Linked DNA regions of Homo sapiens: all the other regions are linked to region 3. The links come from fine-mapping of genetic effects on gene expression. A gene starts in region 3. Each other region holds a variant in brackets. All regions are shown on one strand. Distances are between the middles of the regions. Region 1 overlaps ARID3A (AT-rich interaction domain 3A). Region 2 overlaps ARID3A (AT-rich interaction domain 3A). Region 3 holds the start of GPX4 (glutathione peroxidase 4).

The links.
Region 1: its variant is fine-mapped to the expression of GPX4 in spleen (GTEx, PIP 0.98).
Region 2: its variant is fine-mapped to the expression of GPX4 in ileum (CEDAR, PIP 0.95).

The regions. Positions count from the first base shown.
Region 1 is chr19:935,819-946,422 of GRCh38, forward strand. The region is part of intron 3 of ARID3A (AT-rich interaction domain 3A); the gene reads left to right. Among named protein-coding and RNA genes, the nearest start is that of ARID3A, 15 kb to the left of the region's middle. RefSeq lists silencers at 4,899-5,018, 5,079-5,358. The variant C/T (reference allele first, on the strand shown) is at 5,376.
Region 2 is chr19:970,281-980,884 of GRCh38, forward strand. ARID3A (AT-rich interaction domain 3A) reads left to right here. Exons shown (of 9, transcript NM_005224.3): 9 at 1,598-5,659. The coding sequence ends at 1,785. Among named protein-coding and RNA genes, the nearest start is that of WDR18, 8.8 kb to the right of the region's middle. RefSeq lists enhancers at 9,785-10,375, 10,326-10,470 and a cis regulatory region at 10,391-10,404. The variant T/C (reference allele first, on the strand shown) is at 5,107.
Region 3 is chr19:1,099,564-1,109,033 of GRCh38, forward strand. It overlaps GPX4 (glutathione peroxidase 4), which reads left to right and starts at 4,431. Exons shown (of 7, transcript NM_002085.5): 1 at 4,431-4,564; 2 at 5,623-5,717; 3 at 5,803-5,947; 4 at 6,095-6,246; 5 at 6,679-6,703; 6 at 6,837-6,896; 7 at 6,977-7,216. The coding sequence starts at 4,481. The coding sequence ends at 7,009. SBNO2 (strawberry notch homolog 2) reads right to left here. Exons shown (of 32, transcript NM_014963.3): 31 at 9,216-9,406; 32 at 8,075-9,141. The coding sequence ends at 8,657. RefSeq lists enhancers at 1,981-2,515, 3,005-3,374, 3,405-3,454, 3,475-3,554, 6,857-7,733 and 2 more and silencers at 731-868, 4,157-4,236, 4,247-5,266.

The DNA of each region.
Region 1 (10,604 bases), 160 kb before region 3:
CTCGCTCTGTCGCCCAGGCTGGAGTACAGTGGCGCGATCGCGGCTCACTGCAAGCTCTACCTCCCGGGTTCACGCCATTCTCCTGCCTCAGCCTCCCGAGTAGCTGGGACTACAGGCATCCGCCACCGCGCCCGGCTAATTTTTTGTATTTTTAGTAGAGACAAGGTTTCACCGTGTTAGCCAGGATGGTCTCGATCTCCTGACCTTGTGATCCGCCTGCCTCGGCCTCCCAAAGCGCTGGGATTAAAGGCGTGAGCCACCGCGCCCGGCCCGTGATGGGATTTTACACGCACAGGCGGTTAATCACAGATCTTCAGCTGCTTAAGGATTTGAACCTTTAGTCTCAACAATTCTAATAAGTGTTGAATGAATTTGAGATGAATCTTAAAAAACAGCTTTATTGGGCTATACTTCATATGCCATACAATTCACTGTTTTAATTGTACGATTGGGGCCAGGCACAGTGGCTCACACCTGTGATCCCGGCACTGTGGGAGGCCGAGATGGGCAGATAGCCTGAGCCCAGGAGTTCTACACCAGCCTGGGCGGTATAGCAAGACCCCATCTCTACAAAAATTAGCTGAGTGTGGTGGCGCACACCTGTAGTCCCAGCTACTTGGGACCCTGAGGTGGGAGGATCCCTTGAGCCCAGGAGGACAAGGCTGCAGTGAGCCGTGATCGCGCCACCACACTCCAGCTTGGTGACAGAGCGAGACCCTGTCTCGAAAAAATAAGAAGGATAGGGTGGGTGCAGTGGCTCACGTCTGCAATCCCAGCACTTTGGGAGGCCGGGGCAGGCGGATCACGAGGTCAGGAGATCGAGACCATCCTGGCTAACACGGTGAAACCCTGTCTCTACTAAAAATATAAAAAATTAGCCGGGCGTGGCAGCACGCGCCTGTAGTCCCAGCTACTTGGGAGGCTGAGGCAGGGGAATCACTTGAACTCAGAAGCAGAGGTTACAGTGAGCCGAGATCATGCCACTGCACTCCAGCCTGTGTGGCAGAGAGAGATTCTGTCTCTAAATAAATAAAATAAAATAAACCCTGACCCTTTAACTATTATCCCCCTATTCTACCAGCACGCCCCAGCCCCTGGCAACCACACATCCCCTCCTGCCTCTGTGGATTGGCCTGTTCTGGACATTTTATAGAAATGGGATCACATAGCTGGGTGCAGTGCTTCACGCCTGTAATCCCTGTACTTTGGGAGGCTGAGGTGGGCAGAGCACCTGAGGTCAGGAGTTTGAGACCAGCCTGGCCAACACAGCAAAACCCTGTCTTTACTAAAAATACAAAAATTAGCTGGGTGTGGTGGCGGGCACCTATAATCCCAGCACTCGGGAGGTTGAGACAGAACCGCTTGAACCCGGGAGGCGGAGATTGCCGTGAGCCGAGATCGCGCCACTGCACTCCAGCCTGGGCAACAGAGGGAGACTCCATCTCAGAAAAACAAGAACAAAGAAAAGAAATGGGATCACACACTGCGTGGCCTTTTGTGTCTGGCGTATCTCACTGAGCGTGACGTCCTCCAGGTGCATCAGCACCGTGGCCTGGGTCGGAGTCTCCTTCCTTTTCACGGCTGAGTCATACTCCGCTGGATGGATGTGCCGTATTGTGTTTGCCCGTTCCGCTGTTGGTGACCACTCGACCTGTTTCTGCCTTTTGGGTTTGTAGTGCTGTACACGTTTTTATGTGGGCGTACGTTTGTATTACTTTTGGGTGTGTATCTGGGAGAATTGCTGGGTCTGCTGGTGACTCCATATTCACCCATCAGAGGAACTGCTAGACTGTTTAGCAAGCAGCTGCCCACGTTACCTTCCCACCAGCCACAGATGTGGGTTCCAGTTCCTCTACATCCTCACCACTTGTTATTGTCGACTTTTTTTTTTTTTTTTTTTTTTTTTGAGACAGAGTCTTGCTCTGTCACCCAGGCTGGAGTGCAATGGGGCGATCTCGGCTCACTGCAACCTCCACCTCCCGGGTTCACGCCATTCTCCTGCCTCAGCCTCCCGAGTAGCTGGGACTACAGGCACCTGCCACCACGCCCAGCTAATTTTTTTGTATTTTTTAGTAGAGATGGGGTTTCACCGTGTTAGCCAGGATGGTCTCGATCTCTTGACCTCGTGATCCGCCCGCCTCGGCCTCCCAAAGTGCTGAGATTACAGGTGTGAGCCACTGCGCCCGGCTAATTTTTTGTATTTTTAGTAGAGACGGGGTTTCACCGTGTTGGGCAGGGTGGTCTTGAACTCCCAACCTCAGGTGATCCTCACACCTCAGCGTCCCAGAGTGCTGGGATCACAGACGTGAGCCACCGCGCCCGGCCTGTTGTCGACTTTTGATCCTAGCCTCCTTGTGGGGGTGGCGTGGTTTCTCACTGTGGTTCTGATTTTCATTCAGTGTCAGGATCTCTCCCTCTGCTTTCCAAAGTAAAGCTTGCTGCCCATGTAACTTGCAGATGAGCTCAGAGGTGTAGGAATGACGGCACTAGCCGGTATCTGTTGCTTCACTGCGTGAAGAAAGTGACTGAGTGTTTTAGATGGGTCGTCTCCCAGATCCTCACTGGATCCCAAGGAGCTGCCGTTGAACCTGTTGTGCAGACGAGAAACTGAGGCATGGGGTGATCACATGACTTGTGCACAGTCGCCCGGGGGACGTGTCAGAGCTGGAATTTGACCCCCGGGATGCACCTGCCAGAGAGGACCCAGCGGTGTGTGGATGGATGGCCCAGGGAGCTGCTGGTGGGACGGTTTTGGGGAAGCTCAGCTGCCCCTCCGTTTTTCTTTTTGTCTGGAATGAAAGTGGTTAGACCAGGCCAGACCTCAGTGCTGTCCTCATATCCAGGCCTCCGGGCCTGACAGCTGGGCGTGTGTGGGCACTGGGGCAGGGACGGCCACCAGCAGCCTCTCAGGCTCAAGGCCAGACACACCTCGCTGGGCCCAGCCCCAGAGACCGCTGGGTCCTCACCACGGTGCCTGCCAGGCAGCTCTCGGGAGTGAAGCGAGACCCCAGCAAGAAACGGGCATCCGGTTTTTGGTCTTTTTTTGGTCTTTTCAGCTCATTTGTTTTTTTTAATTGTGGAAAATACACATAGATACATTATTTTATCTCTCTTTTTTTTTTTTTTTTTTGAGACGGAGTCTTGTTTTGTCACCCAGGCTGCAGTGCAATGGTGCAATCTCAGCTCACTGCAACCTCTGCTTACTGGGTTCAAGTCATTCTCCTGCCTCAGCCTCCCAAATAGCTGTGACTACAGGCGCGTGCCACCACACCTGGCCTATTTATTTATTTATTTATTTATTTATTTATTATTATTATTTTAGACGGAGTCTTGCTCTGTCACCAGCCTGGAATGCAGTGGCGCCATCTCGGCTCACTGCAACCTCCGCCTCTCGGGTTCAAGCAATTCTCCTGCCTCAGCCTCCAGAGTAGCTGGGACTACAGGCGCCCACCACCACACCCAGCTTATTTTTGTATTTTTAGTAGAGACGGGGTTTCACCATGTTGCCCAGGGTGGTCTCGTATTCCTGACCTCGTGATCTGCCCGCCTCGGCCTCCCAGAGTGCTGGGATGACAGGCCTGAGCCACCGCGCCCGGCCTCTCGATACACTTTTGGTTCCAGAAGTAACACTTGACACTCTTCTTGCAGAGAGGAAGAAAATGGAACGTTTACAGGGAGCCCCGAGTCCCTCCCTTGACCTCTAGGGCATGAGCCGCATGTTCTCCAGGCCTTTCTCTGCCCACTCACACCCAGGAATGTGACCTGGGAGGTATCTAACGTGTGATCTTCCGGGCAGGTCGGGAGGTTCCTCCCGCCGCTGCCTTCGAGGAGCTGTTTATCTTGGGTGCGTTCGCGTCGTAATTGGGATGTTCCGAGCCACCTGGTTCTTTTCAGCTGTATGGACGTTCCCCTCGTGGCGCTGGACACCCCCACGTCCACACACTTCCCTCGGTCATTTCCCTGTTGTAAGCAATACTGTAACGAACATCTTCGGGGCGTGAGAGTTGCTTGGAGCAGTGTGGGGAGGAGGTGGGGAGCTGGAATTGCCAGGGCTCTGGGAGAATCGGCAACACGTTTTCTTCGTCGTGCCCCGGAGACCCCCAGACTGGTGGGAGACAGAGCTGGATGTGAAGGTAGCACTGGGGTCTGCCGTGGCCTCGCCACGTCCATTTCAGACTGAGGCTTAGGGGCGCTGCTGGGCTTCCCCACATCCCTCGAGGGGTCAGGGCTGGGCTAGAGGGGATTGAGGGGGAGGCTGCCAAGAGGAAGGGGCATTGGGGCTGGGGCTTTGCAGGATGTGTAAGAGTTTGTTAGCGAGCCACAGCAGGGCAGGGCCTGCCTCTGGGATCACTGTGACTGGAGCGTAATGTGTGGGGCCAGGGTGGCCAACTTTTTGGCTTCCCTGGGCTACATTGGAAGAAGAAGAATTGTCTTGGACCACATGTAAAATACAGTAACACTAATGATACCTGATGAGCCAAAAAAAATTGCAAAAAAACTCTCATCGTGCGCTAAGAAATGTACGCGTTTGCACTGGGCCGCATTTACAGCCGTCCTGGGCCGCGGGTCAGTCAAGCTCTCGGTGTAGCAGGAGGGGTGGGCAGAGCTTGAGGGCACTTGGCAGGGTTTGGAGCTGGGAGAAGGAGGCTGGGAGGACCCTTCTGGAGCCTGTTTTGGAGACAGAACGGAGGCACCCTTGGTCCAGGCAGGAGTAGAAGAGGCCAACACTGCAGCTGGGCTTCTGGGGCCTGAGAAGAAGGAGAAGGAGGAGAATTTTCCCAGCACAGGCGGGTGCTCTAGGCAGATGGTGCAGCTGGGGCCTTTGCCCAGAGGTCAGGCAGCAGGTTCCGAGCACACAGAGGCAGCGGCTGTGTTTGAGACAGAGTGTGTTTGTCAAGAGAGCCCCGAGCCAGGCCCTCGGCCGCCAGCCCTGGTGCCGGCGTCTTCCTGGGCCTCCGGGAGCCCCGGCTGCACGTGAGCCGCCGGGAGGGCTGTCGGGAAGCCCCCTGGGCACCTGGTCCTCCCCACCGGGGCAGCGCCCGCCTCATCAAAGCCACTGTGGCTGCTGGCGCCGGGCCAGCTGGGCCCTGGCGGGCGAGGGGTGGGTGGGTGCCCGCCAGCCCCTGGCACTGTGCCCCGGCCCGTGCCCGTGCCAGGAGCGTCGCTGACTCAGCCGGAAGAGCCTTATCTGGCCCCTGCGCCACCGCCTGGCCGTCGGGTCACCGCCGCGGGGTCACCGCCGCCGCGGCCTGGCCCCACGCCCACCGCCGGCGTCCCACCCTGGTGGCTGCTGCCAAGCGCCGGCCCCGCCCCATGCTTTCTAATAACACACGCGGCAGCCCGAGGGAGCGGTGCCCGCAGGCAGAGAGTGTCCC[C/T]GCGTGGTGCCTGGGCGGGGGAATGGGCGTGGTGAGCCGCCGTGGCGTGCGTGCGAGTGTGCACGCTGGGGCTGTGGCCGGGCGGCTCGTGGGTCCTGTCTCGTGGGACCCTGCCTGGGAGGGAATCTTGCTCCAGACACAGCATCTTCGGACCCTCCAAGGCCTCTGCCCACCGGGCACCTGCTGGATTCTGTGGGTCTCGTGTGTGGGGCTGTGTGCACCCAGCCAGCGGCACCTCACGCGCCCGCCTGCGTGTCCCCAGCCAGCACCACGGTGTTCGTTTAGGTCTCTGTGTGCCGAGTGACGTGGCAAACTTCCCACGTCCCTGTTTTGCGTGGACCTGTTGGTGAGTGTGTCCAGACGTGTGTCTGCCCTGACGTCCTTTGTGAATGTCTATGTTGGGGTGATGATCTCCTGTGTGTGCATTTTTTTAACTATAAAGATGGGGTCTTGCCATCATGTTGCCCAGCCTGGTCTCAAACTCCTGGGCTCAAGTGATCCTCCCGCCTCGGTCTCTGAAAGTGCTGGGATTACAGGCGTGAGCTGCTGTGCCGGACTGGTCTCTTGTGTTTTGTGTGGATGTGGCTGTGTGTGTGTGTGTGTGTGTGTGTGTGTCAGGGGTGGCTGCAAGCGTATGTGTGTGTGCACGTCGAGGCTGGAGAGTGTGTGTCCAAAAGCGTGCCTGCTTGGGCTCGCCACGTGTGCGCACGTGTGCCCGTGACAGACGACCTTCCTGTGTGCCTGAGCATTTGGGAGCCTCGTGCTGGACCCTGAAGCATGAGGTCGCGGTGGGGCCTATTAACCATTAGACCCCCGGGGCTGCTAGAGAGTGGCGCTGTCTGTCTTGGTCAGCAGCGCGCGTCGGCCGCGGGGCACAGATCAGCGCCTCCCCTGCCCGCCATGGGCTCTGGAGCCAGCCTAGCCGATGATGGAGCCCCAGTGGCCACCGAGCTATGGACAGGGCCGCTGGGGGTGCACCCCCACCCTCTCCGACCCCGAGGAGCTGCCGGCAGAGCCCTGTCCACTCTTGCCTCAGTTTCCCTGCTGGACACAAAGGGCTGAAGTCCAGGTCCCTTCGATGGCCCAAATTACCTGACTGTCGATCCTGACTGGGGCGGTGGCGACATGGCCCCCGCAGCTGCCCGGCGGTGGCACCCAGGGGCGTCACCCACGAGGGACGCTTGACTCAAGGTCCTCTCCACTGGCCGCCGGGAGCCGGGCCGGGAGCCGCTGCGGTGCCGACCTGGTGGGTGGCACACGGGGGGCGGGTGCGGACCGCCTCTTCTCCGCTCTGCCGGCTGCACATGGCCAGAGGACAATTGGGGGTCACAGGGTTAAACGCTGACTAATCTGGCCATTGAAGGCCCAAGCGCCGGGATATGCAGCCTTGCCCCTTGGTCAGGGCTGGGCTGGGGGTCCGTGGGCACAGGTGGGTGGGCAGGGAGTAGGTGGAGGCCGCCCCTCCCACTGCCCCGCAGGCCCTGGTTCTGGCCAGGCTCAGGAAGTGAGCTCCCTGGGGACCCAGGCCCCATGTCCAGAAGCCACGCTGGACATAGTGCCCAGATTCCATGCCCAGCAGCCTCCTCTGCCACCCTCAGAGACGGAGAACGTGAGAGCAAGTAAGAACCCGCCTTCCGGGAGGAGCCCCGTCTGGATTGGATGGCATCGCCCAAAACTCACGTCCACCCAGAACCTCAAGATGGGACTGCATTTGGAAATAGGGTCTCTGAAGATGTTAGTTTCAGTGAGGTCCTGCAGCGTACGGTGGCCCCAAATCCCATGCCGGTCGGTTGTCCTCTAAGGGGGAGGTCACACCTGTGATCCCCGCGCTTTGGAAGGCCAAGACGGGAGTTTCGCTTGAGCCCAGGAGCTTGAGACCAGCCTCAGCAACAGAGTGAGACCCCTGTCTCTACACAAATTAGCTGGGTGTGGTGGTGCGTGCCTGTGGTCCCAGCTACTCTGGAGGCTAAGGCAGGAGGATTGCTTGAGCCCAGGAAGTCGAGGCTGTAGTGAGCTATAGTGGCACGACTGCACTCCAGACTGGGCGACAGGGCAGGACCCTGTGTCAAAAAAAGAAAAAAAAAAAAAAAAGGACGGGCGCGCAGTGTCTCATGCCTGTAATCCCAGCACTTTGGGAGGCCGAGGAGGGCGGATCACCTGTGGTCAGAAGTTTGAGACCAGCCTGACCAACATGGTGAAACCCCGTCTCTACTAAAAATACAAAATTAGCCGGGCGTGGTGGCGGGTGCCTGTAATCCCAGCTACTTGGGAAGCTGAGGCAGGAGAATTGTTTGAACCCAGGAGGCGGAGGCTGCAGTGAGCTGAGATCGCACCACTACACTCCAGCCTGGGTGACAGAGCGAGACTCTGTCTCAAAAAAAAAAAGAAAAGAAAAAAGAGAAATTTGGACACGGACACGTAGGGAGATAGCTGTGTGGAGACAGAGGCAGAGGCTGGAGCGATGTGGCCACAAGCCAAGGACACCTGGAGCCCCCAGAAGCTGGGAGAGGAGGGAAGGACCCTCCCCTGGAGCCCCAGTGACACGCTGATGTCAGACTTGTGGAGAGAAGAAACCTCTGCTGACGTGGCACCGTGCCCTGGGCAAGGTTAGGGCAGAAACACCAGGCTGTGCCTCCCTGGGCACACATGTGTCTGAGCCCGACCCTTTCATGGGCACTTACGGAGCACCTGCTGTATGCCAGCCCGACCCTCTCATGGGCACTTACGGGGCACCTGCTGTATGCCAGCCCGACCCTCTCATGGGCACTTACGGGGCACCTGCTGTATGCCAGCCCGACCCTCTCATGGGCACTTATGGGGCACCTGTTGTATGCCAGCCTGACCCTCTCATGGGCACTTACGGGGCATCTGTATGCCAGCCCGACCCTCTCATGGGCACCTACAGGGTACCTGCTGTATGCCAGCCTGACCCTCTCATGGGCACTTACGGGGCACCTGCTGTATGCCAGCCTGCCTGCGTACTGGGGACACAGCCGTGCATGAAGCAGAAGCTCCTGCCGCCGGCACTGGAGTCCTGACGTCGGCAGCGCGGTGGAGGGCGGGCCTGTCTCGCCGTTATCTCCCAGGCGTGTCTGCTCCCCGTGTGTCTGGCTGCAGGGGCGCGTCCAGGGGGTGTGTGTGTGTGTGTGTGTGTGTCTGCGTGGGAGTGTCTGGCTGTGTGGCTGCACGGAGGCCTGTCTGGGTAGGAGTGTCGGTGGGGGCGGTCCCACACGGCCATGGTTTGTGTCTGCCACGGCCTCAGCCCCGTTGCTTCGGTCGATGCCCCCAAACCTTGACCCATCTCAGGGGCACCACGCTCACTGCTACAAATGTGGGTCTTCCGGGCAAGTGAGCGTCCCCCACCCAGGACCCCCGACCCCGGCCCTGGGAGGGCCCGACTGCCAGCCTGGCTGAACCTCCTTCATTGTCTGGTTTTCGGGGGTGGATTTTGAGACAGGGTCTCGTGCTGTCACCCAGGCTGGAGTGCCGCGGTGCAGTCATAGCTCACTGCAGCCTCGACCTCCCGGGCTCCGGTGATCTTCCCGTGTCAGCCTCCTGAGTAGCTGGGACCACAGACACTCGCCACCACACCCGGCTAACTTCATTTTATTTTTTGGAGACAGGGTCTTGCTGCGTTGCCCAGGCTGAACTCCTGAGCTCTTAGGGGAGCCGGGATGTCCCTGGGTCCTGCGGTCGCTCTCTGTCTCCATCTCTTCTTTCTCCTCTCCCCTCTCCCTGTCTCTGCCACCCGCCCCGTCCCTTCCACCACGTCGCCCTGTAATTCTTCCCTGACGGCCATTTTTCCGGGAGTGGCTGGGCGTCTCTGCCCTAGCTGGCGCCCTGCCCAGCCACTGCCCCCACCCCTCAGTTGGCCACATGCCCATCTCGTGGGGGCCCTTGGACCTGGTTCTTGGGGAAGAACTAGACAGATCACCTCTGTGGTTATTCATTGCTTTAATGCCACCTGGGGGGAGAGAGCCTGGGCACACCAACATGCAGAGATCCCAGCTCTGCCCGACCTGGGCCTGGTGCCTGTGACCTCCTCCTCTCGGCCTCAGTTTCCCCGCCCGTAAGACGGGGATGGTATCAGAAGGAGTGCAGCTCTTGTGACTTTGTTTTCATCCTTGGCCTTTACGGTTCACCAGGTTTCTCCTGTAACTCCTGTAGAGAGGGGACGGCGTGTGGCATGGCCCCTGCTGCCTGACCCAGCCCACCTCCGTCTGCTCCCTAGCGGGGAGGTGTCCAGGGCGGCCCCAGCCCACCTCCGTCTGCTCCCTGCAGCGGGTGGGATGGTGGGGTGTCCCTGGAGCGGGCAGAGCCTTGAGTGACTCCTCCGAGGCTGCTGCCCATGGTAGGGGCAGTTCCTGTCCTGCCCTCAGCCTGGGGTCTGGCAGAAGCTCCGGCCAGGTGTACCCCAAGGGACCCCGGACCCTGAGCCCACCAGGGAGGGCCCTTCCTCTTGACTCTAGGGTGGGAGGTGGAAGCAGCCCCTTCCTTCCTGCAGCCGTCTTTGGGCCCGGACTCCAGGCAGGCCCGTGTCCCATTGTGGGGACGGCGTCGACATGGCCGGGGCAGGCGTGTTCTGGCCCCTTGCACTGCCCGGCTCCTGCTGCTGGTGCTGGGCTGCGTTTCTGTTCAGAGAACCTGGGCTGGGAGTGATGGGACCGCAGTCTCCCACCAGGTGCCTCTTTCCAAATGGACACTCCTGCTGGGCATGACACTTCTGAGGCTTTCTGGGACCGTCCAGGTCCCGTCTGCAGGGAACCCCAGGACGGAGTTAATTGCTGAGTGCCCAGCTCTGGGCAAAGTGCTTGGACCCTGCGGTTACTCCGAGCCCATTTCTCAGCAGGGAAAAATGAGGCTCGCGGAGGCAGGGGCCCGGCGTCCAGGTGGGAGCATGAGGGCGTATTGTGGGTGGGCTGGCCGGTCTGGGGGGCGGGGACCCTGTACAGAACGCCCCGGCCGCGTGGAGTGGCAGGTTCGTCACTGCCTGGGGGAGGAGAACACTGGGTATTTCATTTTTATTTTTTTGTTTTTTTTACTTTTACTTTTTCCTTTTTATTTATTTATTTATGTATTTATTTATGAGACAGAGTCTTGCTTTGTCACCCAGGCTGGAGTGCAGTGGTGCGATCTTGGCTCACTGCAAGCTCCGCCTCCCGGGTTCAAGCGATTCTCCTGCCTTAGCCTCCCGAGTAGCTGGGATTACAAGCGTGCACCACCACGCCC
Region 2 (10,604 bases), 130 kb before region 3:
CCAGCCTGTGCAATGGAGCAAGACTTCGTCTCAGAGGAAGAAAAAAAAAAGAATTAAAAAATTTAATTAAAAAAGTGGAGTCAGTGCCAGGGGCAGTGGCCCACGCCTGTAATCCCAACACTTTGGGAGGCTAAGGAGAGAGGTTTGCTTGAGGCCAGCCTGGGCAACACAGAAGACCCCATCTCTACAAAAGAACATAAGTAAATGAATAGTTTTTCTTTTTTTTTTTTTTTTTTTTTTTTTTTGAGACAGAGTCTCACTCTGTTGCCCAGGCTGGAGTGCAATGGCATGATCTCAGCTCCTGCAACCTCCGCCTCCTGAGTAGCTGGGATTACAGGTGCATGCCACCAGGCCCGGCTAATTTTTGTATTTTTAGATGATACGGGGTTTCACCATGTTGGTCAGGCTGGTCTCGAACTCCTGACTTCGTGATCTGCTGGTCTTGGCCTCCCAAAGTGCTGGGATTACAGGCATTAGCCACCACACCCGGCGGTAAATGAATAGTTTTTCTTAAAGTGGAGTCAGGCCGATGGTTCATAGTGGCCACCAGGTGGCGCTGTCGACACAGAGCAGCCTTGTTGCAGGCCCCCGCCCGGCTGTGGTCAGAGGCTGAGCTGAAGGTCAGTGGTGTCCTCACAGGTCCACAAATGGATTTTTGAGGGGTCCGTGCCCTCCGGAAATCAGATGTAAAACGTGTACATTCATATTGAATCTTACAGGGGAGAAGGCCAACTGTGTGCTAGGGGTCTCGCAACCCCACATCAACGAACCATGGGCATCAGGGTTCTCCCTGCAAGAGCTGTGTGCACGCTGATGTGCATGTGTGGATTAAACACACGTGTGTGCTCACGTGCATCCATATATATGCACATGTGTGTGATGAAGGAGTGAGCAGACACAGTGGGGAAGTTTAAGCTGGGCTCACGTCTGTAATCCCAGCACTTTGGGAGTCAGAGGCAGGAGGATTGTTTTAGGCCAGGAACTTGAGACCAGCCTGGGCAACATATTGAGAGCCCATCTCTACAAAAAATAAAAAATTGCTAAAATATTGCCAGCCACAGTGGCTCATGCCTGTCATCCCAGCACTCTGGGAGGCCAAGGTGGGTGGATCACCTGAGGTCAGGAGTTGGAGACCAGCCTGGCCAACATGGTGAAACTCCGTCTGTACTAAAAATAAAAAATTGGCTGGTGTAGTGGCAGGCGCCTGTAGTTAGTCCCAGCTACTCAGGAGGGTGAGACAGGAAAACTGCTTGAACCCAGGAGGTGGAGGTTGCAGTGAGCCAATATCGCACCACTGCACTCCAGCCTGCGCGACAGAGCGAGACACCATCTCAAAAAAAAACAAAAAAATAAAAAATTAGCCAGACATGGTGGCACGCCCCTGTGGTCTCAGCTACTCGGGAGGCTGAGCTGGGAGGATCACTTGAGCCCATGAGGTTGAGGCTGCAGTGAGCTCTGATGCCACCACTGCACTCTAGCCTGGGGGACAGAGTGAGAGAGAAGTTTATTCCCCGGAGCACCCCATTGGGTCTCCCTTGTGGCCCGCCTCGCATCTTCTTAAACTCTGCATGGCATATGTCTTCTGTTCTTGCCTTAGGAGTTCTGTTTGCTCAGCCGCCGGCCCCCACGCCAACCTCTGCTCCCAACAAAGGAGGCGGCGGCGGCGGCGGCAGCAGCAGCAACGCAGGCGGCCGGGGAGGAAACACCGGAACCAGCGGCGGCCAGGCTGGGCCAGCGGGGCTGTCCACACCCTCCACATCTACCTCAAATAACTCGTTGCCTTAACCGCATCACTCCCCACCCGCCACCCACCCTGGAGCCCGCCGGCCTGGGCAGGGGGTCCAGGTGGGCCACACAGGGGCCAGGATGGCGGAAGATACGGGTGGGGAGGGAAGATATCCAGAAAGGAGCCACAGCTGACGCCAAAAAGAAAAGAAAAAAGATATATATATATATATATATATATACACGTATATATATAAAGAGAATTTAATAAAACAGGGGAAAACCAAGGAACACTTGAATTTCTCAGGTTTTGGACATTCAGAGAGATGAATTGTGAGAACAGCAAAGAAATCCATCAGAAAAACAGAAAGAGGCAGACGTTTCCCAGGGCGTTCAGGCAGCCCTGATGGACCGAAGGCTCTGGTGTCTGGTTTGGCCCCACAGCAGTGTGGGCCGATCCTGTTTACCTCATACATCCCTGCACTGTGTGTTTTCATTTTTGTCTGCTTTAGTTCTCTTTTATTTTCTATTCACCACACACTCACCACTCCCAGCTTCTCGTGTCCAGTGAAACCCCTGAACCAAGATCACTGAATTTTTGTTTTTTTCTTGTTGCTTTGGGAAATTTTTTTTTCTCTGTAGGGTTTTTAAGAGGTTTCGGGGGTTTTGTTGTGTAAATATTCTATTTTATTCTTGGGGGGATCAAACCTTAGGAAAAGGATATCTATATATCTATATAGCTATATATTTGTGTTCCTTCAGGGAAACTGGTCTTGAAAAAGCAAGAAAAAAAAGCAAAAAAAAAAAAAAAAAAAAAAAAAAAAAACTCACCTTTTTATTTTTCCCATGACCAATTTGGGTCCCTTTGTCCATTTCTGGGGGTGCGTTGGGCAGCTGTGAGCCCAGCACATCGGATCCCTGGGGCTAGAGCCGCGGAGCCAATGAACTCAGGTGCTATGGGCCGGGCTGGGGCAGAGGGTGCATGCTGGGGTCCCACCGGCCAGGGGCCCCTGACAGTGAATTGCTGACTGTGATATTCCACGATGCTTTTGCTTGTGCCGTGCTTGTCTGCTGGGCTCTCGAGTCAGGGGCCTGGAAATTTTTTTTTTTTTTTTTTTTTGAGACGGAGTTTTGCTCTTGTCGCCCAGGCTGGAGTGAGTGCAATGGTGCGATCTTGGCTCACTGCAACCTGCACCTCCCAGGTGCAAGCGATTCTCCTGCCTCAGCCTCCGGAGTAGCTGGGATTACAGGCGCCCGCCACCACGCCCAGTTAATTTTTGTATTTTTAGTAGAGATGGGGGTTTTGCCATGTTGGTCAGGCTGATCTCGAACTCCTGACCTCAGGTGATCTGCCCGCCTTGGCCTCCCAAAGTGCTGGGATTACAGGCATGAGCCGCCACGCTGGCCCGGTCTGGAAATCTTATCTAAAAAGTAGCAAGTGCTGGAAAAAGGGCCTGGGGGGCGGGGGTGGTTCTTGTCGAAGCCCCCAGGCTCCTGTCTCAGGGATGAATGTGGCGTCTCATTGGGATTCTTCTCTTGCCCGAAAGGGCTGCTTTTGAGGACTATCAATACTGGGGAGTGGGGGTGAAGCCGGACCTCACTCAGGGTGAGGATTTCAGGGCCCCGGCATCCTGAACACCCCCCACACCCCAACATTCTCCTCGCTCTGTCCCTTCCTCTTCTCCCAACCCCTTTTGTGCTGGGGCTGCGAGCTCCCCGAGTTCTGCGGTGACTAAATCGAGGCCGAGAAGGGAGGCTGCCCCCCACCACCCTGTGGGTCAGTACCCCTCCCCCTGGCTTGGAGAAAGTGGGGTCACCGCAGCTGAGCTGGGGGGTTATTTTGGCTGGAGCTGCTGGAGCAGAAAGGCTGGGTCTGAAATGCCCAGCAGGGTCTGGGGACTTCGTTGGACCCGCGTGGTGTTGGGCGGGGCTGTCGTGTCCTACACGGGAGCTCTGGGCTTTCATTTCTCTTGGGGTGCAGTGGGGATTAACTCAGCTATTCCCAGGGTAAGCCTGGGTCTCTAATTGGGCCCTGGGAGCCCTGTTAGGCCACCGGCATGGGGGCTTGGTGAGGAAGGGGACTCCCCAGCTCCCCCCACTCCCAACCACCTCCCCATTGCCTTGGAGACCCCTGGGGAGGGGGCTGGGGGGCTTCTGAGCCCCTGAGTCTAGGTTCACTTTCCCGTCGGGCTGTGGGAGGGGACTGTCACTTTCCTGTGTCTTTGGGGAGGGGACCCCCACTTCCTTCTCGGATCTCAGGGCCGTGGACACACACCCCCTTTCCAGGAGGGGGTGGTGGGCGTCTAGGTTTTCCTTGTCCCTTCCTGGGGCCAGCACCGTAGCAGCACAATCACCCCGGGAAGGGGGTGTCTGTTTGCCTCCAGACACAATCGGGCCCCACTCGCAGAACCACCTGGACTCTGTCCGTGTCTGTCCCCCGGCCTCCAGGGCTCCTCTCCCGGGACCCCCGTCCCACGCCTGGGCCCCGCGCCGGGGGAAGCGCCTGCTGCCTATCTCTGTCTACCTCAGGTCTGACTTTTGATGCCAAAATCTGAGCCCCTGGGGTGCCTCTCCCCCGCCTCCCGTGCACCAGGGTCTGCAGCAGCCACTGGGGCCTGGCTGCCTGCTGCATCTGGCGGCCCTGGACCCCTGGGGCCCCCGTGCACCTGCCCACCTCGGAGCCTGGGGAGGGGCCGTGCAGGGTCGAGGGCTGGGTCGTCTCCCTCGGGCTGCGTGTGTGTGTCGGGAATCCTGCGTGTCGTGTCTGTGGGCGATCCGGCCTCCCGGCGGTGGGTGGACCTGGATTCTAACTCAGAGGACTTGAGCCTGCTGTTAACTCCGATGATTGTAGGGACAGGCGGGGTGGGTGGGGGGTGGGCGCGAGGCTGGGTCCCGGCCCAGGAGAAGGAAGTCGCTGAAGGCAGTGGCCATGCTGGCCGTGGAAATGGGAGGCGGTTGCAGAGGGTCTATGGGGCCCGGTCCTGGATACTCGGCAGGAAGCCGTGTCTGCAGAGGCTCCTCCCTGCCTCAGGTGGCCCCGTTCAACCCCAGCCGTGCCCATCTCCTGCCACCGCCTGTCGGTGGGGGTTTAAATTCGGTGTGGCTTTCTGGGGTGCAGCTCAGCACCCCCCCTTATGCAGACTGGGAGGGGGTCGGGCAGTCCCCTCAGCCACGAGGACCCTGGATGGGTTCTAGTTCACTTGGGACCGTGGGGCCTGGCTGCGTACTGAGTGGGTGCCCCACAGTCAAGGCCAACGGGGGCTCCCCCTGCTCTGAGATGTTGGGAGAAAGGCGGCTTCTGGAACCTTCCGTGGGACCCGTAAGTGGCTGTCCAGAAAGGCGGGAGGGTGGGCACGGGGCACGGGGGGCAGCTGGGGTCGT[T/C]GTTAAGGGTCACGCATCTGTACAGTTGAATTTCCTTTCTCTTATCATGTTTTACCCACCTTGTCCCTTTTTTCCCCAATTGTGCTTTTGCATTTTTTTCCTTGGCAAATGTAAACTCAGCCTTTCATTCATGACGTGTGAAATTTCAGTTTCTCTGGAGTTTGTCAGACGGCGTGGGAACCACGCCTGAAACTCAGGTAATAGGAGGAAAAAAAAAAAAACTTAAAAAAATTTTTAAAAAACATAAAACTACTCTCTACCTCTGGCTGGGCCCAGCCTGTCTCGCCCTGGCCGCGGCAGGGTGGCCTGTAACAATTTCAGTTTTCGCAGAACATTCAGGTATTAAAAGGAAAAAAAAAAAAAAAGACAAAAAGACCAAAAAAAAAAAAAAGTGTGATTTTGAAATTTAAAAGAACACTGAAAGTTTACATTTTATAGTAACATTATTATGCAGATTGTATTTAAACTTCAGAAATATTTAAGACGATTGTAACCCTGTAAAGCTGATGAGATATTAAAACGAGACAAAACACTTCTGACTTTTAACAGAAAAGTGTCCTGTGGTGTTTTTTTTCTTTTGGCGTCTCCCCAACCTCCAGCTCCACCCTACACCCCTGCCCAGCACAGCCAGGGGTGAGTGGAAGGGGGTGCTCTATCCCCCTCTGCCCTGCATCGCTCTAGGTCTGGTTCCGGGCGGCAGAGACAGCTACAAAAGCGGGGGTCTGGCCAGGTGCGGTGGCTCACGCCTGTTATCCCAGCACTTTGGGAGGTCTAGGAGGGCGGAATCACCTGAGTTCGGGAGTTTGAGACCAGCCTGACCAACATGGTGAAACCCCATCTCTACTAAAAATACAAAATTATCCGGGCGTGGTGGCGCGTGCCTGTAATCCCAGCTACTCCGGAGGCTGAGGCAGGAGAATTACTTGAACCCAGGAGGCGGAGGTTGCAGTGAGCCGAGATTGCGCCACTGCACTCCAGCCTCGGCGACAAGAGGGAAACTCCATCAAAAAAAAAAAAAAAAAAAAAAGCAGGGGTCCTCAGCCAGGGTCTGTGCCCCCAGGGGGACCCTGGTCCATGTCTGGGGGCATTTGTGGTTGTCACGCCTGGGGGGGCGCTCCTGGTGTGGAGTGGGTGGAGTCCTGGGATGCTGCTCGGCACCCTGAGTGCCCAGGACGGCCCCACCGCAGAGAACAATCTGGCGCCCAGCATCCACACTGCAGGAGTTGGGAAATTCTGCCTTCATTATTTAAGGTGGGGTAAAAACAGTTCTCCCTGCCCACAGCAGACACCAGGATAAGCTCCTGACAGGGCAGACGGTGTAAACCCGGGGGAACCCAGCTCCTGGGACTCGCCTCCTCTCTCCCTCCCTACTCAGGGCATGGATTTCAGTGTGTGCAGCCTCCTGGGACCCCAGCAGGGCCGAGGATCATGGGATGCAGAGTCTGTAGGGGGTCCATGGAATCCCCTAACCCAGAGGGCCTTAACCAGGGTGATTCCGCCCCCAGGGGACCCTGGTCCATGTCTGGGGACATCTGTGGTTGTCCCATCTGGGGGGAGCTCCTGACATGGAGTGGGTGAAGTCCAGGGACGCTGCTCGGCACCCTGAGTGCCCAGGACGTCCCCACCCCAGAGAAGGATCCAACCGCAAGGTCCACAGGGCCGAGGGGAGCTCCTGGAGGCCGCTCTGGGCACCTCTGTGCCTCGCTGAGAGCCCGACACCAATCCCGTTTTAGGGATTTGGGATGACAGGTGTGGCAGGGCCAGTGTGCGCACCCCCAGCCACCTGCCCACGAGCCTGACCCCTCGCCTCCTGCCTCAACAGGGCTCTGCATGCGGGCGCCCCTGGCGTTATCCGACCGGAGCTCCCAGGGCAAGTGGCCCGGTCCGGCCTCAGGGCCTTCACACAGCTGTTCCACCGCCGGGAACAGCCCTCTCCCCCTTTGCTCTGACAGACTCCTTTCCATCCTCTGCAGCCGACACACAGTCCCCGCCTGCCCATGACAGGAGGGTGCGGCCCCTCGGGTGGGAGGCACGGGGCTCCCCGCTCCTCCGCCCTCTGTGCGGCCCAGATGGAGGCCCTTGTGCCGAGCGGGACACCCTGTTCCCGAGCCCCCCATAAGTTTGCCCTCCTTCACCTCCTAGGCGAGCCCAGGAACCAGCCCACTGGTGAAGCCGCCTGGAGCTGAGGCCTCTGGGGTTCAGGGGCGTCCTGGTGGCTGGGGGAGGGAACTTTTCCAGTGCTGGCCACATTTTCACCTTTTCCCTTACAACACCATTCGGGTCCTAGGAAACAAGACCAAGGGCCAGATTTGGCCCCTGGACAGCCAGTTTGCAGCCCCCAAACCCAGAACATAGTAAAGGGACTCAGCTGGGGTCAGAGGTTCACACCCGTAATCCCAACACTCGGAGGCTGGAGCGGGAGGATGGATAGAGCCCAGGAGTTTGAGACCAGCCTGGGCAACATAGGGAGACCCCATTTCTACCAGAAATTAAAAAAAAAAAAAAAAGCCGGGCATGGTGGCTGCGGTGAACAGTGATCATGCCATTGTACTCCAGCCTGGGCAACAGCAAGACCCTGTCTCTCTCTCTCTCTTTTTTTTTTTTGAGACGAAGTCTCGCTCTTTCTCCCAGGCTGGGGTGCAGTGGTGCATTCTCGGCTCACTCCAACCTCTGCCTCCCAGGTTCAAGCAATTCTCCTGCCTCAGCCTCCCGAGTAGCTGGGAGTATAGGCGCCCGCCACCACACCCGGCTAATTTTTGTATTTTTAGTAGAGATGGGGTTCCACCATGTTGGCCAGGATGGCCTCGATATCCTGACCTCGTGATTTGCCTGCCTTGGCCTCCTAAAGTGCTGGGATTACAGGCATGAGCCACTGTGCCTGGCCCCTTTTTTTTTTTTTTTTGAATCAGGGTCTCACTGTGTCAACCAGGCTGGAGTGCAATGGCACAATCTTGGCTCATTACAACCTCTGCCTCCTGGGTTCAAGCGATTCTCCCAACTCAACCTCCCAGGTAGCTGGGATTACAGGCACGCGGCACCACGCCTGGCTAATTTTTGTGCTTTTAGTAGCAACGGGTTGGGTTTTCACCATGTTGGCCAGGCTGGTCTCGAACTCCTGACCTCAAATGATAACACCCACCTTGGCCACACAGGGCCAGCCGGGACCCTGTCTCTTAAAAATAATAATAAAAGGCCGGGCACGGTGGCTTACGCCTGTAATCCTAGCACTTTGGGAGGCCAAGGTGGGTGGATTGCCTGAGCTCGGGAGTTCGAGACCGGTCTGGGCAACATGGCAAAACCCTGTCTCTACTAAAATAAAAAAAATTAGCTGGGCGTGGTGGTGTGCACCTGTAGTCCCAGCTTCTTGGGAGGCTGAGGCAGGAGAATTGCTAGAATCTGGGAGGCAGAGGTTGCAGTGAGCTGAGATCAACCCACTGCACTCCAGCCTGGGTGACAGAGCAAGACTCCATCTCTAAAAACATTAATTAGGCCGGGCGTGGTGGCTCATGCCTGTAATCCCAGCCCTTTGGGAGGCCGAGGCGGGTGGATCACGAGGTCAGGAGATCGAGACCAGCCTGGCCAATATGGTGAAACCCCGTCTCTACTAAAAATACAAGAAATTAGCTGGGCGTAGTGGCGGGCGCCTGTAGTCCCAGCTACTCAGGGAGGCTGAGGCAGGGGAATGGCATGAACCCAGAGGCGGAGCTTGCAGTGAGTCGAGATCACGCCACTGCACTCCAGCCTGGGTGATAGAGCGAGACTCCGTCTCTAAAAACATTAACTAATTAATTAATTAAAAATTAAAAAATAAAAGGCCTCTCGTTCTTAGCCCACAAACCCAAAGAAAGTGGTATTGCAACGTTTTCCCAGGAAAGGGTTTCCTGGGCCGCCTAACCCACTGTCCACCCTCCCATTGCCCACGCCCAGGGGACGTGACTGGAGGAGGGTCAGCGTGGCTGGAGGTGGACAGGCCCAGACTCAGCTGCCCGGCCTCCCGCGCACCATCCTGGCCGAGGCTGGCCGGGACACGTCCCTCCCCAGGGCTGTGTTGGAGGCGAGGGACCAACAACACCCCCACACCTGTCCCAGCCGGTTGGTTCCTGAAACCCACGTTAGACCCTGGCCCCGGAAGGGAAAATGGCATTTTCCATTCCAGCCAGAAATGAGTCTGCCAAACCCTGCGTCCCGGAGATGGAGTCCCACTCACTGCCTGGAGGAGCCCGCCGGCCCCAGGGAGAGGAGGGAAGAACCCTGGGAAAGCCCCCACCCCAAACTGGATCGTCAGGCCCTGCTTGTTCACCCGCAGCTGAGGGCCTCAGAGGCGGGGAGTCAGGGAGGGGGTGCACCTCTGAGTTCCCCAGCCTGGGAGGGAGGGACTCAGCCCCCAGCTCTCCCCAGCCAGGGAGGGACTCAGCCCCCCACCTCCTCCCCAGGCCCCCACCTCTCCCCAGCCAGGGAGGGACTCAGCCCCCCACCTCCTCCCCAGGCCCCCACCTCCCTCCCCAGCCAAGGAGGGACTCAGCCCCCCACCTCCTCCCCAGGCCCCCACCTCCCTCCCCAGCCAAGGAGGGACTCAGCCCCCCACCTCCTCCCCAGGCCCCCACCTCCCTCCCCAGCCAAGGAGGGACTCAGCCCCCCACCTCCTCCCCAGGCCCCCACCTCCCTCCCCAGCCAGGGATGGACTCAGCCCCTCACCTCCTCCCCAGCCCAGGAAGGGCCCAGCCACCCCCTAGCCTCTCAGAGCCCAGCCACCTCCCTGGGCCGCCTGCTAGGTGCTTGCTAGGAGGGCGGGAGGCTCCCGGAGGTGAAGCTCAAACCCTCCTCTGATAGCCGATTTTCGGAGCCAGCCAAGAGTCCAGACTGGAGAGGCGGCGGCTGAGACGCTTCCAAAAGCAGAGGGCTACCAGAGCCGGCTGCTGCTCTCCCCACTGGCATAGGTAATGATGGGGCTGCCGCGGGACGGCCGCAGCTGCTGGGTCTGTGGGGCCAGGACCGGGGCAGCCAAGCCGACTGGGGTCTGGCTGGGTTCATCAGTGCCTGCAAACTGGCGGTGCTCCATAAATGTGCAGGGGATGGAGAATGAGGGCCTTACACCCCGAGGGGAACGTTCCTGCCTCTGTGCCTCAGTTTCCCCTTCCTGGTTACCCCCCCTTCACAACCTCCAGCTGGCACCAACGAGATCCGGCCGCTGGGTGGTCTGGAGATGCCCCCAAAGTGTGGCTTCTGTCCCCTGCTCCAACACGATTAGTCTGTCCTCATTCCAGGAACCAGGCTGGGGGCGGGGTGACCTCTGACCTCACACTGCAGCCTGGCCTGGCCACGTCCCCAGGGAGGGGAGGAGGGGAGGAAGGCCTGGCTCGGGCTGGGCCGCAGCAGGAGGCCTGTGAGAAGGTGGAGACTGTAGTCCATCGACTTCCTGCTGCCCCTGCCCTCTCCTGCCTGTGGCAGCAGCCCACACCTGCCCGGTCTGCTGGGTGTCCTGGAACCCGGGAATTTAA
Region 3 (9,470 bases):
GAGTGAAACTCCATCTCAAAAAAAAAAAAACAACAAACAGTCTGGTGGATCCTCAAACTGTTACACAAAGAGTCACCATATGACTCAGCAATTCCACTCCTAGGCATACACCCAAGAGAAATGAAAACATACGCCCACACAAACACTTGTACGGCTTTACAAACTCAAAAAGAGAAAACAGCCCATAGCCGGGCATGGTGGCGCATGCCTGTAATCTCAGCTATTCAGGAGGCTGAGAAAGGAGAATTGCTTGAACCTGGGAGGCGGAGGTTGCAGTGACCTGAGATTGCGCCACTGCACTCCAGCCTGGGTAACAGAGTGAGACTCTGTCTCAAAAAAAAAAACCCCAGATGTCCATCCACAGATGAATAAATAAACACAATGTGATCCCTCCACACACTGGAATATTTCTGAGCCATGAAAAGGAATGATGAGGCTCTGACACAGGCCACAATGTGGATGTAGCCTGAGGACCTCATGCTCAGTGAGAGAAGCCAGGCACAAAAGAACACGCAGTGTGTGATCCCATTTCCATGAAATGTCCAGGACAGGCCAATCCACAGAGACAGGAGGGGATGTGTGTGTGCCAGGTCCTAGGGGAGGAGATGGAGAGTGAAGGCTGATGGGGTCTGGGCTTCCTTTGGGGACAATGAAAATACTCTGTGCTGGGTGCGGTGGCTCACGCCTGTAATCCCAGCACTTTGGGAGGCCTAGGCAGGCGGATCACCTGAGGTCGGGAGTTTGAGACCAGCCTGACCAACATGGAGAAACCCTGTCTCTACTAAAAATACAAAACTAACTGGGTGTGGTGGCGCACGCCTGTAATCCCAGCTACTTGGGAGGCTGAGGCAGGAGAATCGCTTGAACCTGGGAGGTGGCAGTGCAGTGAGCTGAGATCGTGCCACTGCACTCCAGCCTGGGCAACAAGAGCGAAATTCTGTCTCAAGAGAAAAAAAAAATTCTGGAACTAGATAGATAGAGGTGATGGTCTCATAACATTGTACACGTCCTAAAAACACTGAATTGTACACTTTGAAGTGTTAAAATGTTGAATTTCATATGTATTTTGTTTGAATTTCAAAAACTTTTTTTTTTTTTGAGACAGAGTCTTGCTGTATCCCCCCAGGCTGGAGTGCAGTGACACGAACTCGGCTCACTGCAACCTCCACCTCCAGGGTTCAAGCAATTCTCCTGCCTCAGCCTCCTGAGTAGCTGGGATTACAGGAGCACGGCACCACTCCCAGCTAATTTTTGTATTTTTAGTGGAGATGGGGTTTCCCCATGTTGGTCAGGCTGGTCTTGAACTCCTGACCTCGTGATCCACCCGCCTTGGCCTCCCAAAGTGCTGGGATTACAGGCGTGAGCCATTATGCCTGGCCCTAATTTTTGTACTTTTAGTAGAGACAGTTTCCCTATGTTGGCCAGGCTGGCCTCAAACTCCTAACCTCAGGTGATCCGCCTGCTTCGGCCTCCCAAAGTGCTGGGATTACAGATGTGAGCCACCGCACCCAGCCAAAAAGTTTTTTTTGAGACGGAGAGTCTCGCTCTCTTGCCCAGGCTGGAGTGCGGTGGTGCGATCTCGGCTCACTGCAAGCTCCGCCTACCGGGTTCACACCATTCTCCTGCCTCAGCCTCCCGAGTAGTAGCTGGGACTACAGGAGCCCTCGACCACACCTGGCTAATTTTTTGTAATTTTAGTAGAGACGGGGTTTCACCGTGTTAGCCAGGATGGTCTCGATCTCCTGACCTCGTGATCTGCCCGTCTCAGCCTCCCAAAGTGCTGGGATTACAGGTGTGAGCCACCATGCCTGGCCAAAAAGATCTTAAAAAAGAAATGAAGCCACAGGACAGCCCCTCCCCAGTCCTTCCTGGAGCCAGGGGCTGCTCTAGAAAGATATGTGGCAACACAGCTTCCTGCAGGGACACTCAAGAACTTCCGCCCTCACAGGGCTGGAGCCTTGAGAGGTCCCCGAGACTCCATTTCCCCGTTCGTGAAATGGGGACACTCTGGGAAAAGCTGTGAAGCCCCCAGCACAAATCTCTCCCAGAGCCTGGGGCCCCGTTCTCAGATCCGAGGTCGCGACCCCGTGTTTTCCCCACTTCTGACTTTATCACAATTGGCAGGAAGTCAGGAATGGGATCAAGTCTCTCCGCGGAGCTGTGGGTGCTGAGCTGTTTTTCTGGCAACCCTGAAATAAACTCCCATTTCAGTGCACATGTTTGCAACAAACTTAAGGAAAACAACACCGGCAAAATTGCGAACAGCTGAGCCTTCGCAAGGGCAAGAACAGAGTCACCAGTGTGGCCCTGTCACCCGGCACTGCCAGGGCGGGAGGAAATGGGGGGGTTTCCTGAGAAGTCAGACAATGGGAGTTGACTCCAAGAACTCAGCCTCTAGGGGCTGGGCGGGAGCAAAGCCATGTGAACAGACTTATGCAAGACCAGGATTCGGCCAGCCCTGCTCAGGGATCCTTGCTTCACTGCCTCTGCCACCAAACCATCCATGACGCCTCTGTGCTGCATCTGGCAGGCCTGAGTCGGGGGCAGTGGCGGGGGCAGGCTCATAGCACCCCCCAAGTCAACCCGGCCCTGAGTCTGTCTCTGAAGAAATACTCAGTGCAGGGTCAGAAAAGGTTAAGACCTTGAGGACAACATACAAATCCCAAGCACCTAGGCGGGGTAGAGTGGCTCACACCTGTAATCCCAGCACTTTGGGAGGCCGAGGCAGGCGGATCACCTGAGGTCGGGAGTTCGAGACCAGCCTGACCAACATGGTGAAAGCCCGTATCTACTAAAAACACAAAAATTAGCTGGGCGTGGTAGCACATGCCTGTAATCCCAGCTACTCAGGAGACTGAGGCAGGAGAATCACTTGAACCCGGAAAGCGGAGGTTGCAGTGAGCTGCGATGGAGCCACTGCACTCCAGCCTGGGTGACAGACCAAGACTCCTCAAAAAAAAAAAAAAAAATCCAAACCCCTGCCTGTACAGGGGTCAAAGTCCAATCACGGTGACTCAGTTCCCAAGTATGAGATGAGTGTTTCTGTTGCCACATGTCCAAGCCACGAAGTGAAAAACAGAGTTGGAAGCCAAGATGTGGGGCAGTATGGGCTCGGGTGTGCCCATACCTTGTAATGTTAGAAGTGTAAGAAAACCCTCCAGACTTGTGTTTATTTTCTGAGCACATACCGCGCGTCCCTGCGTGGGCAGCTGCCCCTGGGGGTGGGAGCCCAGGAAACTCCAGGTTCTCAGTTAAGTGGTAACTGTCTTGATGACTCTCAGGTCTCAGTGCCCACATTATACAAGCGGCTCAGCAACCAGACCCAGGATGGGGAGTCACTGACCCCCTGCGCCCATGGCAGGGGTGAGGGTAGGGACACCCCCATAAGATGGAGCTGTGATGAGAAGCAAACCCAACTCAGTTTGGTTTCATTTACATTAAAAAGGCAAATCCCTTGGCCGGATGCGGTGGCTCACACCTGTAATCCCAGCACTCTGGGAGGCCTAGGCGGGCAGATCACCTGAGGTCAGGAGTTCGAGATCAGCCTGGCCAACATGGTGAAACCCCGTCTCTACTAAAAATACAAAAAAATTAGCTGGGTGTGGTGGCTCGCTCGTGTAATCCCAGCTACTCAGGAGGCTGAGTCAGGAGAATCGCTTGAACCCGGGGGCTGGGTGGAGGTTGCAGTGAGCTGAGATAGCGCCACTGCACTCCAGCCTGGGCAAAAGAGCAAAAAAACTGTGTCTCGGAAAAAAAAAAAAAAAAAAGGCAAATCCCGGCCGAGCCTTTGGCTCACGCATGTGATCCCAGCACTTTTGGGAAGCTGAGGCTGGAGGATCACTTGAGGTCAGAAGTTTGAGACCAGCCTAGGCAACATAGCGAGACCCCCATGTCTACAAAACAATAATTAGCCAGGAATGGTGGATGAGCCTGTTGTCCCAGCTACTCGGGAAGCAGAGACGGGAGGTTCGCTTGAGCCTGGGAGGTCGAGGCTGCAGTGTGCCCTGATCGTGCCACTGCACGTTAGCCTGGGCAACACAGCAAGACCCCGTGTCTTAAAAAAAAAAAGGTAAATAAGAGTTGGGGACACTTTTCTGCGAGTTGGAGAAACCAAACCCCCTCGACGAGTCTTAAGTAGTATTCTCAGGTTGTCTGGCCTGCGGCCGCGCTGCTGTCAACCAGCCGGATAACTGCGCTGCCTCCCGACGCGCCGCCAGCCAGGCCACGGCCTCCTAGACACAAGCGAGCATGCGCAGTCGCCAACAACAAGTCCGCACGTCCGGTCCCGCCCCCCCTTCCCCGCCTTCTTCCCACTCCGGCCTCCCATTGGCTGACGTCGGCGCGAGCGCTCAACACCGACGCGTCTGACCAATGAGCGCTCTGGAGGGCGTGGCCGTGGGAAAGGAGGCGCGGAAAGCCGACGCGCGTCCATTGGTCGGCTGGACGAGGGGAGGAGCCGCTGGCTCCCAGCCCCGCCGCGATGAGCCTCGGCCGCCTTTGCCGCCTACTGAAGCCGGCGCTGCTCTGTGGGGCTCTGGCCGCGCCTGGCCTGGCCGGGACCATGGTGAGCTAGCGCCGCGGCCGTTGCCGGCCCGGTGACCGTTGGGGCGGGCGCGCGATCCCTGCCTCCGCTCGCCGGCGTGGGGAACCCTCAGGCTCCAGTGACCTTGGTGGGGGGCGTCTGGGGGCTCCCCCTCCCCACCCCCGGCCGGGCACGGACGCGGGTGACCGTACTGCGACGCGCTCCGCGGCCCTCCAGGCCGTTGTAGGCGCGCGGGCTGGGGTCGGGGAAGGGGAAGGGGTTGTTCCACGCGCGCGGGTCGTGGTCGGGGAAGGGGCCGTCCAGGCCGTTGCAGGCGCGCGTGCCGGGGCCGGGGTCGGGGGTCCAGGCTTGCAGGGGGCGGGGTCCGGGACGGCTGGGGCGGAGCTGGACCGTTGAGGGCCACGGCGGGGCGTCTCCGGGCCGAGCGGGGCTGCTGCGCCCGAGCGGTTGGGGGCGCGGAGGGCTGGAAATCCCGGATCACGCGCCCCCGGGCGCCGCCCCGCCCCCGCACCTTGGCCTAGCGCGGTGGCGTCACAGTCGCGCAGTCCTGACTACGGCCTCCGGGCCCTTTGTCCCCGCTAGCGGCGCTCGGGGTGGGGGAGCCAGGAGGGGCGGGAGACGGGCGGGTATGGGCCGCGCGGGCGCAGGCTCCCCCGGGCGCCGCAGGCAGCGGTGCCAGAGCCGGGGCAGGCGGCGGCCGCGAGCCCCTCGGCGGCGGAAGGCCCCAGCGTGCAGGCGCAGGAGGGCGCGGCGCCGGCGGAAGAAGCCCTGTCCCCGCAGCTTGCGACCGGAGATCCACGAATGTCCCAAGTCCCAGGACCCGGTGCGCGCGGGGCCCCCACACCGGCTAATGTGGCACATTTTGGGGTTGGAACCCTCTCCCGGCCTCCGGGTCTCCGGTAAAACCGGACCAGAAGTACAAGGGGGCGTGTGCGTTTAAGGAGGAGGAGCGTTCAGGTCTTCAGGGCCGCAGGGCCTCGGTGTCCCCGCCACCGACCCGCTCCCGATCCCTTCCTGCCTCAGGGTCCCGGGCTCAGCCTCCCGTCCACGCTCCCTGCTCAGCTTCCTTTGCCTTGCAGTGCGCGTCCCGGGACGACTGGCGCTGTGCGCGCTCCATGCACGAGTTTTCCGCCAAGGACATCGACGGGCACATGGTTAACCTGGACAAGTACCGGTGGGCGCTCGCCTGGGGTGGGGCGCGGGGTCGGGCCCTGGGAGGGGGCCGTGTTCTTCTGCGCTGACGCCGCCGATCCTCGCAGGGGCTTCGTGTGCATCGTCACCAACGTGGCCTCCCAGTGAGGCAAGACCGAAGTAAACTACACTCAGCTCGTCGACCTGCACGCCCGATACGCTGAGTGTGGTTTGCGGATCCTGGCCTTCCCGTGTAACCAGTTCGGGAAGCAGGTGGGCTGCTGCGTCCCCGGGGCCCGCAGAGGCGGGTGGGTGGGGGTCGGGGTGGGCTCCAGCCTGGAGAGGGCCTGGGAGTGTGCAGGGGGCCCGGACTGAGGGGGTGCCAGCCCCCGACTCACTCACACACCTTGGCCGCCACAGGAGCCAGGGAGTAACGAAGAGATCAAAGAGTTCGCCGCGGGCTACAACGTCAAATTCGATATGTTCAGCAAGATCTGCGTGAACGGGGACGACGCCCACCCGCTGTGGAAGTGGATGAAGATCCAACCCAAGGGCAAGGGCATCCTGGGAAAGTGCGTGACCTCTGGGGACAGTACGGCTGCTGGGGTGGGGGTGGGGGGGCTGCTGGGATGCTCACACCTCCCTGGGGCAGAATGGCTCATGGCTCGGGGGGCGGTTGCGGGGAGGTGCTGGGACTCTCACATCGCGTGGCCTCCTGGGGGTAAGATGGCTCAGGGGGACATAGAGGGCTGTGGAGGCAGCCAGGGATGCCCACACCTTTGTGGCCTCCTGGGGACAGGATGGCTCGGGGGCCTGTGGGGGGCTGTTGGGACTCTCACACTGCATGGCCTCCTGGGGTAAGATGGCTCTGGGGGGGCTTGGGGGCACTGTGGCTGTGGAGGCAGCCGGGGAAGCTCACACCCTTGTGGCCTCCTGGAGACAGGACAGCTTGGGGACTGTGGGGGGCTGCTGGGGACGCTCACGTCCATGTGCTTCTTTTCCAGTGCCATCAAGTGGAACTTCACCAAGGTAAGGGGGCTGTGGGGGGTAGGGGACCAGCTTCCCCTGGCCACAGCCGTGGCCCAGATGGGCAGCGGACAGGAAGGGCAGCCTCAGCCCCTTGCAGGGGTGGCCCCACAGTTTGGACACCGTCTCTCCACAGTTCCTCATCGACAAGAACGGCTGCGTGGTGAAGCGCTACGGACCCATGGAGGAGCCCCTGGTAGGTCCTCTCTAGGGAGCCCGCTTGAGGCTCGGGGGCTTGGGAGGTAGCTGCCCTAACCCAGCTTTCCTCCCCGACAGGTGATAGAGAAGGACCTGCCCCACTATTTCTAGCTCCACAAGTGTGTGGCCCCGCCCGAGCCCCTGCCCACGCCCTTGGAGCCTTCCACCGGCACTCATGACGGCCTGCCTGCAAACCTGCTGGTGGGGCAGACCCGAAAATCCAGCGTGCACCCCGCCGGAGGAAGGTCCCATGGCCTGCTGGGCTTGGCTCGGCGCCCCCACCCCTGGCTACCTTGTGGGAATAAACAGACAAATTAGCCTGCTGGATCTTTCTGCGTAGGGGCTTGGGGGGCCCTTTTGCCAGGGGCCCCTCCATGTCAGGGCCAGTTGCCGTCAGCTGCCAGGCTGGGGGTGCCATGGAGGTGGCGTGTTGTTGCCCCCTCTTCCTCCAGGCTCGGGGGGCTGTGCTGGCTGCAGTGCTGGGGTGCAGTGAGATCTGGGCCCGTTGGACACCCAGCCCTGGCTCTTAATCCGTGCAGCCCCACCTGCTGTGCACAGGCAGGGCCTGGTGTAGTGCCGAGTCTTGGAGGAGATAATTCTAAGTGGCTGTGCTTCCTGGCCCCGGGCCTTAACTGTTAGGAGGTGGCTACTGGGGCCTCCCCTGGCCAGGAAGCAGAAGTGCAGAGGCCCGAGGAACAGCGTGGCCCTGGTGCTGGGGATGGGTTGGGCACCCACACCGGCCCTTGGGGCCTCACCTGGCTGGGGGGTGTGGGGGTGGCTGGGTGGTTACTGTTTGCACAGAGTCCCTCCGTGAGGGCTGGGGATGGACAGGCCAGGAGGGGCTGGTAGAGCAGTACCAGCCACCGTTCATGGGACCCGGGGGCTGTCTGGACACGGCCTGGCTGCCCACCTGCACAGCTAGAGGGACTGCAGCCTGCCAGGGTGGCTGATCCCAGCTGCCCCCACTGGGGGTCTGTGGAATGGACGGTCCATGGCACCTGCCCCAGACACTGGGTTGAGAGGTCTGTCTCTCCCAGCCCTCGTCCCCTCTCATCCACATGGGGCCAGCACAGGCAGTGGGCAGAAAGGCCTGGTAACCAGGAGAGCCTGGGGGGATGCCCACACACCCCTGCCCTTCCCTCCCTGTCCCACAGGCTGAGGAGCAGACTCCGTGGGAAGTAGGCAAAAGGCACATATATTTAAAAAAGTCCTTTACATATGTACATCAGAACTTGCTATAAATACATAGAAACCGCAGGCGCCACCCTGCCAGCTCCGCGGCCTGGGGCCTGGGAGAGGTGAGCGGGCAATAACTTAGGGGTCAGGGAAGGGCTGGGGGAGGGAGAATTGCATATATTAGCAGGGGTCTGCCCCACGGAGCCCCCGAGACGCGGGGCCCTGAGCACCTGGGGTTTCCTGAGTTTCTAGCTCTTGGGACCACCCGGTTTCACGGATTTCAAGGGTTTGGGCCCACTGAGCCCTTGTGGGTGCCCAGTCCCAGAGCAGCCACCCGGAGCCCCTTCCTACTTGGGAGGAGAGGCACAGAGAGGGCCCTGCCACGCCCCGGCCCCCAGCTGTCCTGAGTGGGCCCCGCCAGGGCTGACCAGGTGGGGGCCCGGGTCGGGCGCTGAAGGCACTGCGGCCAGGGCCTAGGGCTCCTCTGAGCAGTGGTCAGGGGACCTTGGCCCTGCTCCCCACCGCTGCTCCTAGGGGAGAAACGGTCCCTGTGTCTTGGGGCATGTTTCGCCTAAAGGCGTGTCAGAGAGGAGCCTGGGCGCCGGGGAAGGGTGGGCTGAACTGGATCACGCTCTGCCGCTCGGGACCACCGCCCGCCGCGCCCCCCGCCCCCGCGCCCTCCCCCAGCGCGCCCTCGGAGGGCGGCCCCGCGTGCAGCGAGCGCAGCATGTCCTCCAGCACCTCCTTGAAGTTGATGTCGCAGCCCTGGTGCGCGAGGGCCGCAGGGTCGGCCTGGGCGTCGGGGGTGCCCAGCGGCACGACGCCGGGGCCGGCGTCCAGGGACAGCGGCGCCGGGAAAGAGAAGTGCGGGGGCGGCGGGAAGGCCTCGGCCGGGGGGCTGTAGGTGAGGTCCAGCACCTCTCCGGGGCCGCAAGGCAGCGCCAGCGGGCGCGGGGCGGGCGGGGCGGGGCAGCCCAGGGCGGGCGCCTGCCTGCGCTTCACGTCCGCATCCATCAGCCGCAGCTCCTGCAGCACCCGGCGCACGCAGCCCTCGGGGATCTTGATGCCTGCGGGCAGAGCGTCGGGGTCAGGGCCGGCGCTGGGGGCTCGGGCCTTCCCGGGGCGCCCGCCGCCCACTCACCCACTTGCTTCTTCCTGTCCTTGGTCTTCAGCCGCACGATCTGCAGGTAGCTGCTGCTGCTGACGTCGGCCATGACGGCGGCGATGCGGCCCCACACGCGCAGCAGCGCGCCGCACAGCATGTAGTGGTGCCGCAGCCGCAGCCCCTGCAGGCAGTCCTTACCCTCCTGCGCCAGCCGGCAGTGCCGGTTCCTGCGGACGAGACGGGTCGTCTCGGCTCAGGCGGGTCCCAGGGGCCCGCAGGCTCCCCAGGTGC